3 separate regions of the Homo sapiens genome follow, and regions 1 and 3 are each linked to region 2. The links come from fine-mapping of genetic effects on gene expression. A gene starts in region 2. Each other region holds a variant in brackets. All regions are shown on one strand. Distances are from middle to middle.

The links. PIP is the estimated chance that this variant, and not a neighbour inherited with it, causes the effect. A credible set is the group of variants that fine-mapping cannot tell apart.
Region 1: its variant is the best candidate, but not a certain one, in a credible set for the expression of LPP in whole blood (INTERVAL, PIP 0.58).
Region 3: its variant is the best candidate, but not a certain one, in a credible set for the expression of LPP in whole blood (INTERVAL, PIP 0.51).

Annotation. Positions count from the first base shown.
Region 1 is chr3:188,120,655-188,125,993 of GRCh38, reverse strand. No RefSeq gene overlaps it. Among named protein-coding and RNA genes, the nearest start is that of LPP-AS2, 31 kb to the left of the region's middle. The variant A/G (reference allele first, on the strand shown) is at 2,613.
Region 2 is chr3:188,151,078-188,156,313 of GRCh38, reverse strand. It overlaps LPP (LIM domain containing preferred translocation partner in lipoma), which reads right to left and starts at 2,157. Exons shown (of 12, transcript NM_001375462.1): 1 at 2,062-2,157. LPP-AS2 (LPP antisense RNA 2) reads left to right here and starts at 2,226. Exons shown (of 1, transcript NR_036497.1): 1 at 2,226-5,108. RefSeq lists enhancers at 24-922, 2,722-3,622 and a silencer at 1,950-2,289.
Region 3 is chr3:188,868,697-188,874,035 of GRCh38, reverse strand. It overlaps LPP (LIM domain containing preferred translocation partner in lipoma), which reads right to left. Exons shown (of 12, transcript NM_001375462.1): 11 at 1,273-1,393. Among named protein-coding and RNA genes, the nearest start is that of TPRG1-AS1, 76 kb to the left of the region's middle. The variant T/G (reference allele first, on the strand shown) is at 2,218.

The DNA of each region.
Region 1 (5,339 bases), 30 kb after region 2:
TCATGTGATCTGCCCACCTCTGCCTCCCAAAGTGCTGGGATTACAGGCATGAGCCAAGCTTTCTAATAGAGGAATCATCTTTTTTTTAGAACCAATCAGGATTGTTGGCCACAAGCAACAGGAACAGACTGTGGTTATCTCATGTGAAAAGGGACTTAATTATGGCTTGACTTACAATTTTTTGACTTAAAATGATACAAAAGTGATATACATTCAGTAGAAAGTGTTAGGATACACTTGCGATGCTGAGCAGAGGCAACCAGCCCCAGCTCCCAGTCAGCCACCCAATCACGAAGCTAAAAAAACTCATACTTTATGGTGTGCAGTGTTGCCAGATGATTTTGCCAAACTGTATGCTGATGTCAGTGTAATCAGTGTGCTTAAGGTAGGCTAGACTATCCTGAGATGTTCGGTGGGTTTGATGTATTAAATGCATTTTTGACATAGGACATTTTCAACTTATGATGGGTTTATCAGGATGTAAACCCATTGTAAGTCAAGGAGCATCTGTATAGTGAAGTGATGATCTTAGAACGGACTTAGGAGACTAAAAGCATGAGCTGGGGTAGGAGACAGGATCTATAGTCAATGTCATGTATCAGGAACAATCTGGCCCATGTGTTAGTGCTCTGATCTGCTTTAACTGCAAATGTTTCCTCCATCTGCACCTCATTTTCTAAAGAATCAAAGTCCTAGGAGGAAGTACAGGATTGGCCAACCTCAGGTCATGTGTTTCAGACTGGGCAAATGTACAGGTCAGGAGTCTTGCTCTGTCACCAGGCTGGAGTGCAGTGGCACAATCTCAGCTCACTGCAATTTCTGCCTCCTGGGTTCAAGTGATTCCCCTGCCTCAGCTCCTGAGGAGCTGGGACTACAGGCGCACACCGCCACACCTGGATAATTTTTTGTATTTTAGTAGAGACGGGATTTCACCATGTTGGCCAGGATGGTCTCGATCTCCTGACCTTGTGATCTGTCCACCTCAGCCTCCCAACATGCTGGGATTACAGGCATGAGCCACCACGCCCAACCCAGCCCTTCTTTTTCTAAAGGAGTAGCCATAAAGACTTTGCCAGTGAACCCTCTGAGTGCATCCACAGATGGCTCACTGTTTTGTAACCTAAAAGTGCCTGTGCAGACTACGTGCCCATGGCCTGCCTCTGGGACAGATACATAGTTGTTTTCCAGAAGACTGTTTTGGAAAGATGAAGAAATGAATTCTGCCATCAAATCCAGTTGTATCTTTCAGCTTGTTAATGCCACATAGAGCTTTATGCTTCTATTACCTGCACTAAAACACACCAGTGTCACTTAGTGAACTTTTTAATTGGCTTTTTAAAATAGTAATGTAATCAGGCTCCTCATGCACAAAAATCTGCAGACGGGCTGAAAGGGAAAATGTGAATCACAGTTTAAATACATGCTTTTCGACTGCTTTGTAAGACAAACAGATGTATTAATTAGCACATACTTTAGGGTATGTTATATACTTAAATGGAGGAAAGCGAACAGAATATCATCTCACCAGAGGCAATAAAGATTTGAGCTCTGACCCTAGAAACAAAATGGCATCTTGTTTTCAGAAATGCCTAGCTGTGAGAACAATGAGTCAGGGGCTTAGAGGAATGATCTCTGGATTTATGTAACAAGAAGGCTCTTGTTCAAGTGGTATATAAGAACTAGACCACAGCCTTAGTAATGTGGGGAAAGCCTTTTAAAGTAGATCCATATGAAGAAATTCAGTAGTCACAGAGCTAAGACATTTTCAAAGGTCTTTAGTAACAAAATTGTGCTAATGCCCAGGACTTAAGAATAAAAAGATTTAGACTGAAGGTAGAGGTGAGTCCTTGGTGTGCATTGTATTATGCTAAGTGTTATTGAAATAATTTAAAAAATGGCAGGGTCTGTACCATGTAGGAGATGACATTGAAGGGATCACATGGACATAATTATGGATTTAATGCAGCATATTTTTTAATGAGAAATTAGTGTTTTGTTTTTTTTTAACTGAAAGATCAAAAGAACTCTTTTCCTTAGAAGGAAGAAAATGTGATTCTTCCTTTTCTTGACCTTTTATGGCATTCATTCTTGCCCACCTTGGGCAGTTATTTTTGTATAGGTCTTGTCTTACTGGACTTCAAGAATGAGATAAAGGAAAAAGGACTATGTCTCATTTCTTTCTACTCCATCCCACACATAATGCTTCCCTAGTACACAGAGAATTCTCTGTATGTGTGTGCTGAATGAATGAATCATCAAAGTCAGTAAAGAAGACATAGGGCTCCTTCAAGTCCAGAAAGAATCTTCCCGTATCACTTTAGACGAAACTGTGTGAACTTGGCAAGTAAATGCACCTCTCTGGGGCTTCCCAGTAAAATGAAATGATGAAATGTTGGTAAAATAGGGAATGGTAAATTGGTTTCAACTTACATGCCTACTCAGTCAATTTCTCTGGACTCTAAGTCTGGATGCTCTTTTTGGCCGGATTGCACACTTCTGATATGAGAAGGCACGACCTTGCCTGGTGGGAAAGAAAGTGGCATATGGGAGCATTGTGTCTATGTCCTGCTCATCTGTAGGTTGCTGTATCTACGTTGTTTTAGAGAATGAGG[A/G]AGGAAATGACTTGTGAAAGTACAACATTAACAGAATGCAAACATTGTGACAGTCTTCACCTGACCTTTGATGTAGATATTTTCTTACCCTTTAGAAGATTTCCTAAAAGAAAAGCCATGTTTATCCAGTGCTCAGGTGACACTGAGCAGAGTAGGCTGTGGTATACGCTGGATTTCCAAATGCAGGCTGATGGAACCTCATGCTTTCACTGATAAGAACCACCTAAAATGCTTGTTTTAGGTATGGCTTCCTGAGTCCCACCCTACAATAAATTAATTAAAATCTTGAGACTAGGGTTCAGGAGGAATATTTATGCTAAGAAAATTTTCCAAGATGATTCTGACATGAAGCCAAAATTGGAAAGCACTGTTTTTCATGGCTGAATCATAGTCCAAAAGTATCTGAACAGGGTGAAACAAACATGATGAAATGTCAGAGACAAATGTAAATCCCTTAACTTTACAATAACAAGAACTGGGAAAACCTAGGCCGACAGCAGCATGTGTAATACAACTGCAGCTTCAATATTTGGTTGCCTGTAAGCTCTGGCTGAGCCAACTCTGAGATACAGCTTACCAAAACAGCGACAGTGGTGTTAGGCTGAAGGCATAGGAATATAATGACGAAGCAAAAGACAGCTCTCTTTCCTATTCTGTAGTTTCAGAAGACAGCTGCATTGTGTTCTTGATTTAGTAGGGGTAATTGTTATTTTTAGTAGCAATATAGAGTAGCTGTAGTAGTAATAACAATCCTTTATGCAGCACTTCATTATTTATAAGTTTATATTCAACATTTTATCCGCCCTAAATAAAAACTTCAATTTAGCTGTGTTATGCAATAGAGCCCATTGGTGGACACACTACTCAAACCTACATCTTTTATCCCCCAAGTCTCATGTCGTGTTTGGCAATGTGGAGAATTTACAGGCCAGGAGAGTAAGATAGCCGAAAACCATGCCATCAGAAAAAACAGAGTTCCTTACCCAGAAGAAGACTTCATAAGGCCTTGCCTGTTGTCACCGAAGGCCTGGTGGGTTTCCACAGGGAAGAGAGGGCAGACTTGTCACAGGAGGCCTCAGAGGACAGAACTTGACCAATGGTAAAAGTTACAGGGAGACATACCTTGGCCCACACCTTGACCCAAAATATTTCTTAATCATCAAAGTCCCCGAAAGATGAAACAGGCTACCTATAGGGAGATTTTGGAAAACTATGTACTAGGAATGGATGGGGAAGAATTTGGGGTGGGTGACTTCAGAGGTCTTAGAAGGGACCCTGAGTTGTGCAACCTGGGCCCATGCAACCTTCTGATGATTAGGGCTGCTGAAACAGCAGGGCTGAAGGCAGGAGTAGTGGGATAGAATGGCCTCAGGTGTGGGAAGCTGCCACTCTGCACCCAAGTGACTGAGAGCTTCACCTGTTTGCCCTGTGACCTGCACTGGAGAACCTCATACTTTAGCCTTAGCTAGCACATTGGGAGCAACCTGATATCCTGTATGCTTTGGGGAACCGCAGCCTTTCTCCTTTTACATGTGTTTAGTGAGCCTTGATTTAGTCGTAGAATTACAGATTTCTAGAGCTTAGAGCCAACTCAAAGACCACTTAGAGGTCATTTGGCCCAACCTGGCCACATTATAGACAGGGAAACAGACAGTTAAATCTGTGACTTAAATTATAAACACCATTAAAAATTAGAGTTAGAGGCCAGGCACAGTGGCTCGCACCTGTAATCCCAGAACTTTGGGATGCCAAGGTGGGAGGATAACTTGAGGCCAGGAGTTCTTGACCAGCCTGGCCAACATGGTGAAACCCCATCTCTACTAAAAATAAAAAACATAGTCAGATGTGGTGGAACATGCCTGTAATCCCAGCTACTTGTGGGAGGCTGAGGCATGAGAATTGCTTGAACCCAGGAGGCGGAGGTTGCAGTGAGCTGAGATCGTGCCACTGCACTCCAGCCTGGGCAATAGAGCAAGACTGTCTCAAAAAAACAAACAAACAAAAAACAAATAGAGTTACAAGAGAACCTCAGGCCATGCCCCATCTGGCCACACCCCTTCATTTTCCTGAGAAAAGGAGTGATTAACTAAGATCACTAAATGAGAGATGGCATGGCCAAGACTGTAGCCCCGTCCCTTGTCTCTCAGTGTGATGTTCCTACTGCTGACACGTTTCATCTCCTCTTTTCCACTGAGGACCTGTTCCTTCTGTCTCTTCCACTAGGGAAAATACCCTCTGCTTTGGGATGCAGGGAGGCTGGAGCTGAGCTCACAGGGGGCCAAATCTGTCCCTCTATGCCACAGTGCCACCTTCTCTGTGAGCCTGGCCTCAAGAGAGTGTGCAGCACTGCTGTGACTGTGGATGCAAAGAATCCTCCAAGCACGCAGCATAACAGAGGTGTTTTATAAGCTGCAACTCACACCGCTAAACGAACACACTAAACATTATTCCAGGTAATTCTACATGCTAATTCCTCCCTGAATTATTTTCATGTGTGTATTTGTGCGCTTGAGCCCAGAGTTAGTATTATGGGTGGAAAATAGAATGTAACTTTATAGTAGTGAATTTTTTAATGAGGTGAGGGGATAAACAGTGTTTAGCAATTTTCTTCTCCTTCTTTCCTCCCTTCCACTTTTGCTCTCTCCTTTCCTTTTTTCTCATCTTCCTTCCTTTCCTCCTGAATTCTCCAACTCAGGGCTGCAAGTATTCATCAACTGAAGAACGAAT
Region 2 (5,236 bases):
AGATCCTACTCAAGTCCCAGCCACAGCAATCAGCTCATCAGCTCAGCTTCTCCTCCCTCTGCGTACACTCAAAACCAACTCTAGACCCATGCTGCTTACAGAGAGCCTGCCTCTGGGGGGACTGCCAGACCCTAAGGCCCCAGGCTTTTACCCCTACCATTCAGAATAGGTAATCCCCTCTGGAGCCTACATTCTAGACTATAAAGTTTTGGGTGTTGGGGTTGGGGCCTGCATTGTAGAAATTAAATGCAAAAATGCACACTCTCCTTTGTTTGTTGTTGTTGTTTTTTGTTTTTTTTGAGAGGCAGTCTCCCTCTGTCGCCCAGGCTAGAGTGCAGTGGTGTGATCTCAACTCACTGCAACCTCTGCCTCCCGGGTTCAAGCGATTCTCCTGCCTCAGCCTCCCGAGTAGCTGGGACTACAGTTCCCCGCCACCACACCCAGCTAATTTTTTGTATTTTTAGTAGAGACAGGGTTTTGCCATGTTGCCCAGGCTGGTTTCTAACTCCTGAGCTCAGGCAATCCGCCCGCCTTGGCCTCCCAAAGTGCTGGGATTACAGGCGTGAGCCACCGTGCCTGGCCCACACACTTTTTCCTTTAACTGCCCCCTGGTGCTGGCAGGAACTGTGCAAGCAGAAAAACTGGTGACGAAGTGGAGAAAACCATATTGGATGTCCTAACCCCCCACTGTCCACCATTATTGACCATAGGCTCTAGGTCTAGCACCCACCTTCGTGGACCTTTACCTATTCTTCTATCTATAAGAGTTGAGGAAGGGGGAGGATGGGAGAGGGAGCTAGATGCTTTGTAAAGGTGCCTAGCCACACTTTCCCCTTCTTCACTTTAGGCTTTCTTAAAATGCACATGTGCAGGGAAAGGTAAGCCATTAAGTCATCAACACCTTAGTGAGAGTGAATTTTACAGGAAAGGCAAGAGATTTAGTAAAAGGGGAAGGAATGGAAAGAGAAAGGGGACTGGAAACACAGTTAAGTGAGTTTGGTACTAGCAAAAGCCCCAGAGAAGACCCTGAGTTCTCGCTAGTTGTTTTGTGTTGGGGGAGGGAAAGCAGTGGATCCCTTCTAAGGGAAGGGAAGCCAGAGAGATTTTTCAGTTCTCCTACGACTCCGAGGTTCCAAAGACTCTGCCCTGTCCAAGCACCCAGGCACAATTCCACTGATTAGCTCATCTCATATCACAACCTCCCCCATCCCCAACCCCTTGCCTCCAACTAAAGAATATTTATACTTTCATCTCCATTTCCCACACTACTTAGTCTTCTCTGGCCCACGGTTCCCTCGAAGAGATGTCTTCCTCCAAGCCGCTAGCTGGCTTCAGGAAACTCCTCAACCTCCAAAAACCCCATTCAGTGCAGGACTCTCCAAAAGGCCGTCCCAGGGACCAGAAAATCAAACCCCCTCCCTGGAACTTCCTTTAACTTTGTCCACGCCTTTGCTCCAGCACTTAGCATTTTCTACCCTAGGCCAGGTTTGACTCCCAGGTTCAACTGAGTTCCTTGAGGGCAACGTCCAATACACCCAGCACAGGGTCTGCCACACACAGGGTGCTAGAGAAATGCTTAGAGAAAGGGAACTTAAGTCCGGAGCCAACTATTTGAATTATGGTCTGGCCTCTAGTAAATAACTTCCGGGCGACCCTCCTTCTCTCTGGGCCTCAGCTGCCCCAACTGTAAAATGGGAGGACTTGGAGGACTGGGTCTAGGCCCTTTCCGCTGTGACAACTGTGATTCCGCGAAAGCTCTAAGCGGATGGGCGTGGCCCCGCCCCCTGGGCGCCCAGAAAAGTCCGGGCAGGGGGCGCGCAAGGCTCCAACCCCGCCTAGCCTGGGGTCGACGCTTTTGGAAAAACTCTGGGTCCCCCTCCCCCATGGCGTGCACCCCGTGATTGGGCCGCGGCCGGCACTTCCGCACAGCGGGCCAGGCCAGAGCAGGGCGCGCGCCCTGCGCTCTTGCCACCCCGGAGGCGCTCGCGCCGGGGGAGGGCTGGGGGTTCCCGAGGCGCCCGCGGGTGGAGGGTGAGGGGAAGGAAGGATTTGCAACAATACCTCAGGGAGGAGGCAGCCGGGGCAGCGGCGGTGGTGGTGGCGGCGGCGGCGGCGGCGGCGGCGGCTGGAGGCGGAGGCAGAGGCAGAGGAGGAGGTGCCCGGGCACTCCCCCTCCCATTGTCCCCAGCCCCGGACAGGCCCGGCCCCGCGCCCCACACTGGCCTCCTCGAGCGCGCCGCCCGCGCCCAGCGCCCCACGCCCCGCGCCCCGGGCCGTGCAGCCAGCCCTTACCTTGCAGCGCCCGGCTGTCTCCCGATCGCTAAAGCTACTTATCCCGGGAAAGCTCGCGCGGGACCCGGGAACGAACCCACAGACAAAAAGTGAAACTTCGGCAGGGCTGGAGCGGCTGCTGGTTGGTGCCTTTCCCCCTCCTTCCTCCCCACCGTCCCCACCCCCTCCCCTTGGTCTCCCGTGCGGTGCCCTGAGCGCTGGAGGCTGACGTCAGGGGCCTGAATTCCTGACTTTGCCTGCACGCATTTGTCCATGTAAGGTATGGGAAGGCGTGTGCCCGCGAAGCCGCCGCGCAGAGCTCGCCTGGCGGGGGAGGGGAAACCCGCAGCCGGCAGTGGCTTTGCCAAAAGGTGGGCGCACTGAGGGCATTGCATTTCCTGGGAGGAAGAGGAGGAGACGCGGGAATGCAGGGAGCTTGCAAAGGAGGAAGAGAAAGAGGGAGATGTGGAGACTTTGCCCCTGCTAGAGGAAGAGGAAGGAGACGTAGGAGGAAGCGGCCGCGTCAGGGGGCTCCTGGAAAATGGAAAAGCCTGCGTCTACTATTAAGGCGTCAAATTAGGGCACTGAGCTTGAGTGGAAGAGATCCAGCCATGAAATCCCCTTCCAAGATTTTCCTCGTGAGCCCCGCCCTGGATTCCCAGCAAGACTCAAAACTTACAAGGTGTCAGAGCTGGCAAAGACCAACTTCCAACCCGTCCGCTTGGCACGTGAGGAAACTGAAGCTCTCGGAAGAGAAATGACTTGTACAGGGTCGTCACTCAGCAGATCGAGGAGCGGGCCCAGGCGCTCTGCCTCCCACTTGGGTTCCCGCCTCCAGGAAGGGCCCTGGCTCCCTTTTAGCCCTGAGCCTTGAAGCAGGTTAGATGCCCGCGAGCTGTGCGGACCACCCAGTGATTTCTACTGCTCTTGGCCCAGAGCCAGTTCCTGGAAGGTCCTGGTTGACAGCGAGCCCTGAATATCAATGACAATCAGTTGCTTCAGGGCAACTTCCTCTGTCCTGTGCTCAAATAAATGAATCCCTGGAGTTTAACGTTTACTTCTGAGCCCCGCCCAGAAAGCTTGCTCTGTGCTTATAGCTTCAAAAAAGTCTGCGAACGAGATGAACTGGTTTGAATACAGACAAGCCTGTCATTGGAAGTTTTGAGTTGGATTTTTCTTTCCCCTCTGACATCTGTAAGGGTGAACGACGATGAGAACCACCACTTAACTGTGTTAGGGGATTATGACGCGCAGCAGCCATGGCCAGGAAAGCATTCCATACCCTGAGACTTCCTTTCCTTGCACTTCTCTCCTATTAATATCTAAAGTAATCCCTCACGTTAGCACATAATGAAAGCAGTCTCTCACCCGGCTATTGCATCTTCAGGTGAGTTAGATAGGACAGAGCGTAGTCCCCCCTTTACACCTCAGACAAAAACTTAAGAAACGTTACTCGCCCAACACAAAACAACTGACTGACCAAGCACCTGTCTTCCCCTCCTCCCATCCAGGTCTCCTGACTAATCCCTTCATCTTTCCATACCTGGCCCTGACCTCTAGCAGGACCTAATTCCATTCATAACTGTTGAGAGTACACCATGAGCTACTGATTCATAAAAACTCCAAAAAGTGGTTCTTCTGAGGATGGACTTTAGTGGGATTCTTTTGACCAGGAATTAAGGAAATAATGTAAAAACACATGTTATTGGATTTATTAAGCACCTTCCTTGTGCTTAATAAGTGTTTGAATTCAGACATTTCAGGGGTAAGACTACTTAACCTCTGTGTTCCTCTCAACTATCTAATGTACACATACAAAAATATGAACATGGCTGGGCGCGGTGGCTTACACCTGTAATTCCAGCACTTTGGGACGCCGAGGCGGGCAAATCACCTGAGGTCAGGAGCTCGAGCCAGCCTGGCCAACATGGCAAAACCCCATCTCTACCAAAAATACAAAAAACTAGCTGGGCGTGGCGGCGAGCGCCTGTAATCCCAGGTATTCCGGAAGCTGAGGCAGGAGAATTGCCTGAACCCGGGAGGCAAAGGTTTTAGTGAGCCGAGATTGCGCCACTGCACTCCAGCCTGGGGGACAGAGCAAGACTGTTGTCAAAAAAAAAAAATATATATATATACAAACACATATATATACACATATATATACATATATACACATATATATACATATATATACACATATATATACATATATATATACACACACACATATATATATACACACATACATATATATATATGAAGGCAGTAACAGAGAGATAAGGTCGAGAATAACCACCCATTCCACAGACTAATAAAGAATTTATCTCTTTGCAACTAACATAGTTTGAAATGGGAGATACGGGCTCTTGGAGAGAGTTTTTTCTGGGGTTCTGAAAAGGTCAGATCCTATCAAAACACAATCCACTCACTCAAACATTTCAGCGTACTCACATTCTGAGTACTACTGTTTAGTATGAAAAGAATTCCAGTGTTACATGAAGTAAAAATGGATTATCTCAATCCTCATGGAATATAACGGGACTTGACCAGCATTTCCTTTTTTTTTTTCCTTCAGTAACTCACTTATAAGGAATAATAGGGTCCTAATGAGGATTAAGATTTAATAAGGTGTAATTAGAGTTGTTCATTTCTTCCATCATATACATTATAAGAGTACTGTGCCGGATCCAGAAATGCTACTAATTATGTTGAAACTGTTGTATGGGTGTGTTGGGGAAGTCACTGTGTTTCTCCTCCTGAAATGTTTATGAATTGCTCAGGTGAGCATGGTGAGCATGGTGTTAGCATGAACATCATATAAAGTTAACTACAAAAGATAATTCTGACTCATGAGGAACTTCCCAAGAGTACAACCACCCAAGTCATAATCTGGATGCTTAGTGAACTGCATACAGTGTTGTCGTCAGTGCTAACCCTACCAAAAGCCTCATTCCCATTTACTGTT
Region 3 (5,339 bases), 720 kb before region 2:
TGCCCCCACTCAACAAGAGAAAATAAGAATGTCCCTAACCACCGATGCATTTTTTACCCTTTACCATTAGTTTAAGGATCTCTCAAAATGCATGCACAGGTACAGGAATGGAATGTTTTGGCCATTTCTGGCCTAGAGCAAAGGTAGACTGATGTCTGCCAAGCAGAAGGGCCACCAGTGGGTTCGGTGTATTTACTTCAACTGCAGTAAGAAAATAAAATCCTAAAGTTTGTGGGGAGTAGTGGTTTGCTGTACTTTCTAAAGGAGACAGCATTGTGGAGAGCAAAGATTGCTAGTCCAGGGGACAGGCCTCCTGAGCACCACCCACAGTTTTGCTACAGTCTGCCTCAATGCACACAGGCCGACTGCCACTCTGAAAATAACTTCTGCCTTTTCTACCTTACCAAGCTGTTAAGAGGATCAAAGAAGATAATGGATCAAAAAAAAAAATGCAAAGAACTGCATAACTGTAAAGGAATATACTACCGCTGACAGCTCCTCTTAGGGTCCATTTTGAAAAGTGTTATATAACAGTTAAATGCTGGCCTTTGTCTTTGGAGAAAATAGAAGTTTCTTTGGAAAATAAATACATAGTACTTCATCAAGAGGTGTGTGTTTGCTAACTTTAGTATAAACTCTCAAAGGCCACAACAGCTATGAACCTCGCCTCTGCTATCTACCATGGTGGCAAGGAGGTCAATGGAGTTCATGTCTTCATTTGACATAGAATGAAATTTAAGTTAACGGGGTATCCAGAACACAATAGCAGCAATGGTTATACTCTGCGGGAAGTTTGGCTTTACTGAAAAGAACATGCAGATATACTGCAGCTCTAGAGGCGTTCAGGAAACTGAGCAATTAGTAGTGCATGCTAACAAATAAATAAATCTCCATGACTCTGAACAAGAAGTTCTAACCAAAGCCTCAGAGCCAAAGTTAAATGTTCAATAACACCATTTCTCACTAATTTAGTATTTCACAATTTACAATGTCCTTTAATATACAATTTTGTATTTCACTCTCACAGCCATATTTGGAGGAGTTAAGGACTTGAGTCCTTTCTTCCGGTGAGCAAGCAGACTGAGAGAGGTACAGTGACTTATTCAACAGCATGTGCTCGGAATACTAGTGTCAAATCTAAAACCCAAGTCCTATGAGTACAGGCACTAAGGCCGTTCTGAGATTTAGTAATTGCTACATCTATGTAAACCTAGCTCGAACGAGCCTTTCAACGCCTGCCACAGACTGGCAGGGCAGGGCTGTCAACCAGACCTCGCATCGGTAGCAGTGAACATGGAAATCTCGATCCAAAGCCACAATACGGACAGTCTCCTCCTGGCCCGGGGCTGGCATAATAGGCTCCTTGCACACAGAACATCGCGGGGCAAATTTCCTGAAAGTGAAGAGAGAGTTCTGGTTAGATACTGCGCGTCGACACTGAGGTGGGACGCAGAGGTAAAAGGAAGAGGTGGAAACTGAGAGTCGGTATACCTGCTTCCTCATCCGTAAGGTGAGGGAGTTAGACTCAGGGACTGTGGAGGTTCTTCCATCAATCGGTGGTAAATATTGTGATATTTGGCGAGGTGAGAGAGTGAGCGTGTGAATTGCTTGGGCATGAAGAGCATCTAGCATCTCTTTCCTGCATGGTGCGCGGTATGAAATTCATCTTTAGATAGATTCTGAATGCAAACCCTGTGCTTGGGATAGGCTAACTGGAGGAGAGAACAAAGTCCTGTCCAGCCCCTATTTGTTTCTGACTTTTGTTTCTAGACTTTTGTATGCACTCCTTAGGTCCTAGAAAAATAGTCTGAGGTTGGTATCTTTGCCTTGTTCCCACCTTTTAGAGCTTCTTTCTTGGAAATTTGCCTTGACTTCTAGGAACTGACATAAGAAGACTCAAATACATAGCTTTTCAAAAGGGCAGAGGTTAGTGCGTTTAAATATACATTACACAAAACTTAAAAGTGGCCAAGTCTGCATTTCCTACATTTTTTATTGTGTTAAACTTTTGCTTAAAAATTAAAAGTTAAAGAGCTATCAAATTCTTTATTCTTTAAAGGATTTTAGCACTGTTAAAGGGTGAGTGTATACTAACACACATACACATACATATACATATAAATATGCATATGCATATGTTTTTGAGGCTGCTGGTAAATACTTTTAATACTTATTAATTTCTTAGTATTTCTCAATATGATCAATGGTACCTAACAA[T/G]TTTTTTTCTATGACAGGTTAATTGGCTGAAAATATAAGCCATGTATCTCTCTGTATCTTCTGGAAATTGGAGATGGTATTTGTGAAGGTATGAAATGACATATTATTTGAAATGGACCTGGATAAGAACTGAAGAGATTTAAAAAAAGAAAAACAGACTGTGACTCAGTTTTTTCATGGTACTGGTTTTAAGATAAACGATGTTAAAAATTTATCTATTTGTAGTGAGACTTAAAAAGAAATAATGATAATAATCTAACTCTTTGCAGAGCACGTTACGGTTGTCAAAGCATTTCTACATACATTATATTCTATATGTAGGTAATTAATTTTCCTGGCAGCACCCAAAAAGCATCTGTATGGCTGCAATCTAAATAAATATGAATTAAGCAGCAGATCAATTGATTGCTGTGAAAGAAAAGTTAGAAGGATCATGGTACCACTGCAGCAGTAATCAGAGTTGTTATAATTGGTATTTTATGCAAGAAGTTTATATTCAGTGGCAAAAAATTGCTTTGGACTACCAGATTATTTTTAAATCTGGGTCATCAGTGGTGAAATAAGTAGGCTTCTGGGATCAACTGCAAAATTTCCTTTCCCCAAACTCTGTGGGAGCAGAAGTATGTTTTCCTTTTCAGTGTATCCATAAGCCTTCTCCAATTTCCCCAAATAGAATTATTTACTCCTCTAAGATAAGAATTCTGTCATTGAATTTATCCATTTTGGTAGTAATTATTTGGATATATTTATGGGGCACTAAACTCTAAGTTTCCACAAGATAGGACTTTGCTCCATCTCTGAGTCTCCAGGAACAACCACTGTGACTGGTGCAGAAAAAAAAAGTTGGGCTGTATCTAATGAAATGAATCTGCCATATTTCTGTATAAAAAAAGATATTAGTTGGGCTTTATGTTCAATCTCAAGGTTCTTCCTCTTTGGGAAGACATAAACTGTATTCTTGCTGAGTAATGATTCTTTCCTACCAATTGGCCTCATTTCCATAATGAGAAAAACCAAAGCGAAGAGGCAGGAGGTGGTTCTCATAGTCCCCACAGTGTTCCTCCGATAGCAATTCGAGGAGGGCTCACAATCCCAGGTGGTCTATTTCAAGGCTTAGCTCACTGAGTGGACAATAATCGTAAAAGTAAATTTGATGAAAACAACTTTCGATGATTAAAGCTACCATTTATTGAGTGCTTATTATGTGCCAAGCCCTGTTAAGTGCTGTACACACTTGACGTAATTTTCTACTGACAGCAACATTATGAGGAAGTATTTTTATCATTTCTACTTTACAGCCAACAGAGCGAAGGCTCAGAGAGGGATGATCTTGGTCATCTTGTATTCCGGCACATTTCTGGCAATCAACTAATGGATGCTGATTAAATACATAAATGAATGAGGGTAATATTCCTGATAAGAAAGCACAGATAGGGGAATAAAGCCTCCATACATGCAAAGAGTCAGTTAAAGAAATCTGCTTTTCTGGGTTTTCTCACTGGGAATACAAGAATAAGCAACGACTTCCAGTACAGACCTGAGAAGGAGTTCTATATATTTCTGCAGTATTTCTATTAATTTATATATACAAATCCTTATTGCAAAAATGATACAAGATGATTATTGTAAAGTTATATATATATATACACAAACACACATATGTATATACACACACACACATATGTATATTTCTATACCAGTCAGACTGTGGTAAGTGCTATCTACAGCAGACTTATAAAACTCTATAAAACACAGAGATTAAGATGTAAATCTAAACTTGAGAAAAGGGAGGGGTGGAGATCAGAGAAGTTTTCTTCCAGGAAACGGTAATTGAGTTGGGCCTTTAAAGATAACCATTTAGGTGAAATGAGAAAATGTGTACGTGTGTGTTAGGGTAGGGGAGATAGTCTTCCAGAAGACTGCAGTGGTTGCAGCGGTCATCTGAAATGACATATGTGAAAGATTGCATGTCCAGTAGGCTGGAGGATATGAGTCAACATTGACCAAAGGTGTTTATGTAGAGGATGGTCCATTAACAAGTTCTCAAAAACAGTATTCCAGAACCTTGTTACACAAAGTGCAGGCCATGGGCACCTGGGAGCTTGACAGAAATCCAGAATCTTAGGCCCCACTCCAGACCTGAATTAAAATCCAAAGTTTAACAAGATCCCTCTGTGGATTACAGGCACATTAAAGTTTGGGAAGCACTGGTTTAAAACGCAGACTAAGGCTGGGTGCAGTGGCTCACGCCTGTAATCCCAGCACTTTGGGAGGCCTAGGCGGGTGGATCACCTGAGGTCAAGAGTTCAAGACCAGCCTGGCCAACATGGTGAAACCTTGTCTGTACTAAAAATATAAAAATTAGCCAGGCATGGTGGTGGGTGCCCGTAATCCAAGCTACTTGGGAGGCTGAGGCAGGAGAATTGCTTGAACATGGGAGGCAGAGGTTGCAGTGAGCTGAGATTGTGCCACTGCATTCCAGCCTGGGTGACAAGAGTGAGACTCCATCTCAAAATAAATAAATAAAATAAACAAATAAATAAATAAAAGGCAGGCTAAGCAGGTGAGGTAAATCCCTTCTTATGGGTCTCCTGTATCTCAAGGTAATCTCTACTCCCAGGCTGCTCTAGTTACAGCAAAGCAAATCTCCCTGAACACAGAGAACCCTTTACTAACTCTGTGCCTCTGCTTTTTGCCTGAGTTGTTCCCTCTGCCAGGAATCTCCTTGTTTCCCACTTAAAACACTCTTGACATTCTCCGTCCACAAAGCCTATTCTGACCACAGAGCCAGGTGATCTGACTTTGACAGTGCAAGCCCTTACCTGTGCCTGTCTCATGGAGTTCAGCCCTTTCTCCCTGTCTGCACACTTTCTCTGCCCTCCTCCTGGCAAGCTCCTTGCTGACAGTGACTTCTCTATATATATCTGCACAATTTCTCTCCTTGTATCTCTCTCCTTCAGCATTTAATGCAACAATTGGCACACAGAGGGTTCTTTATAAATGTGAGTTGAACTGAATTAACATGCATTTTCTAAAGGTCCACAAAAGGAGACCCATTCAAAAGGACCACAAACAAGGCCCCAAAAACTGTCTGGAGGAGGAATATCCCTTTGTCTGCCCTC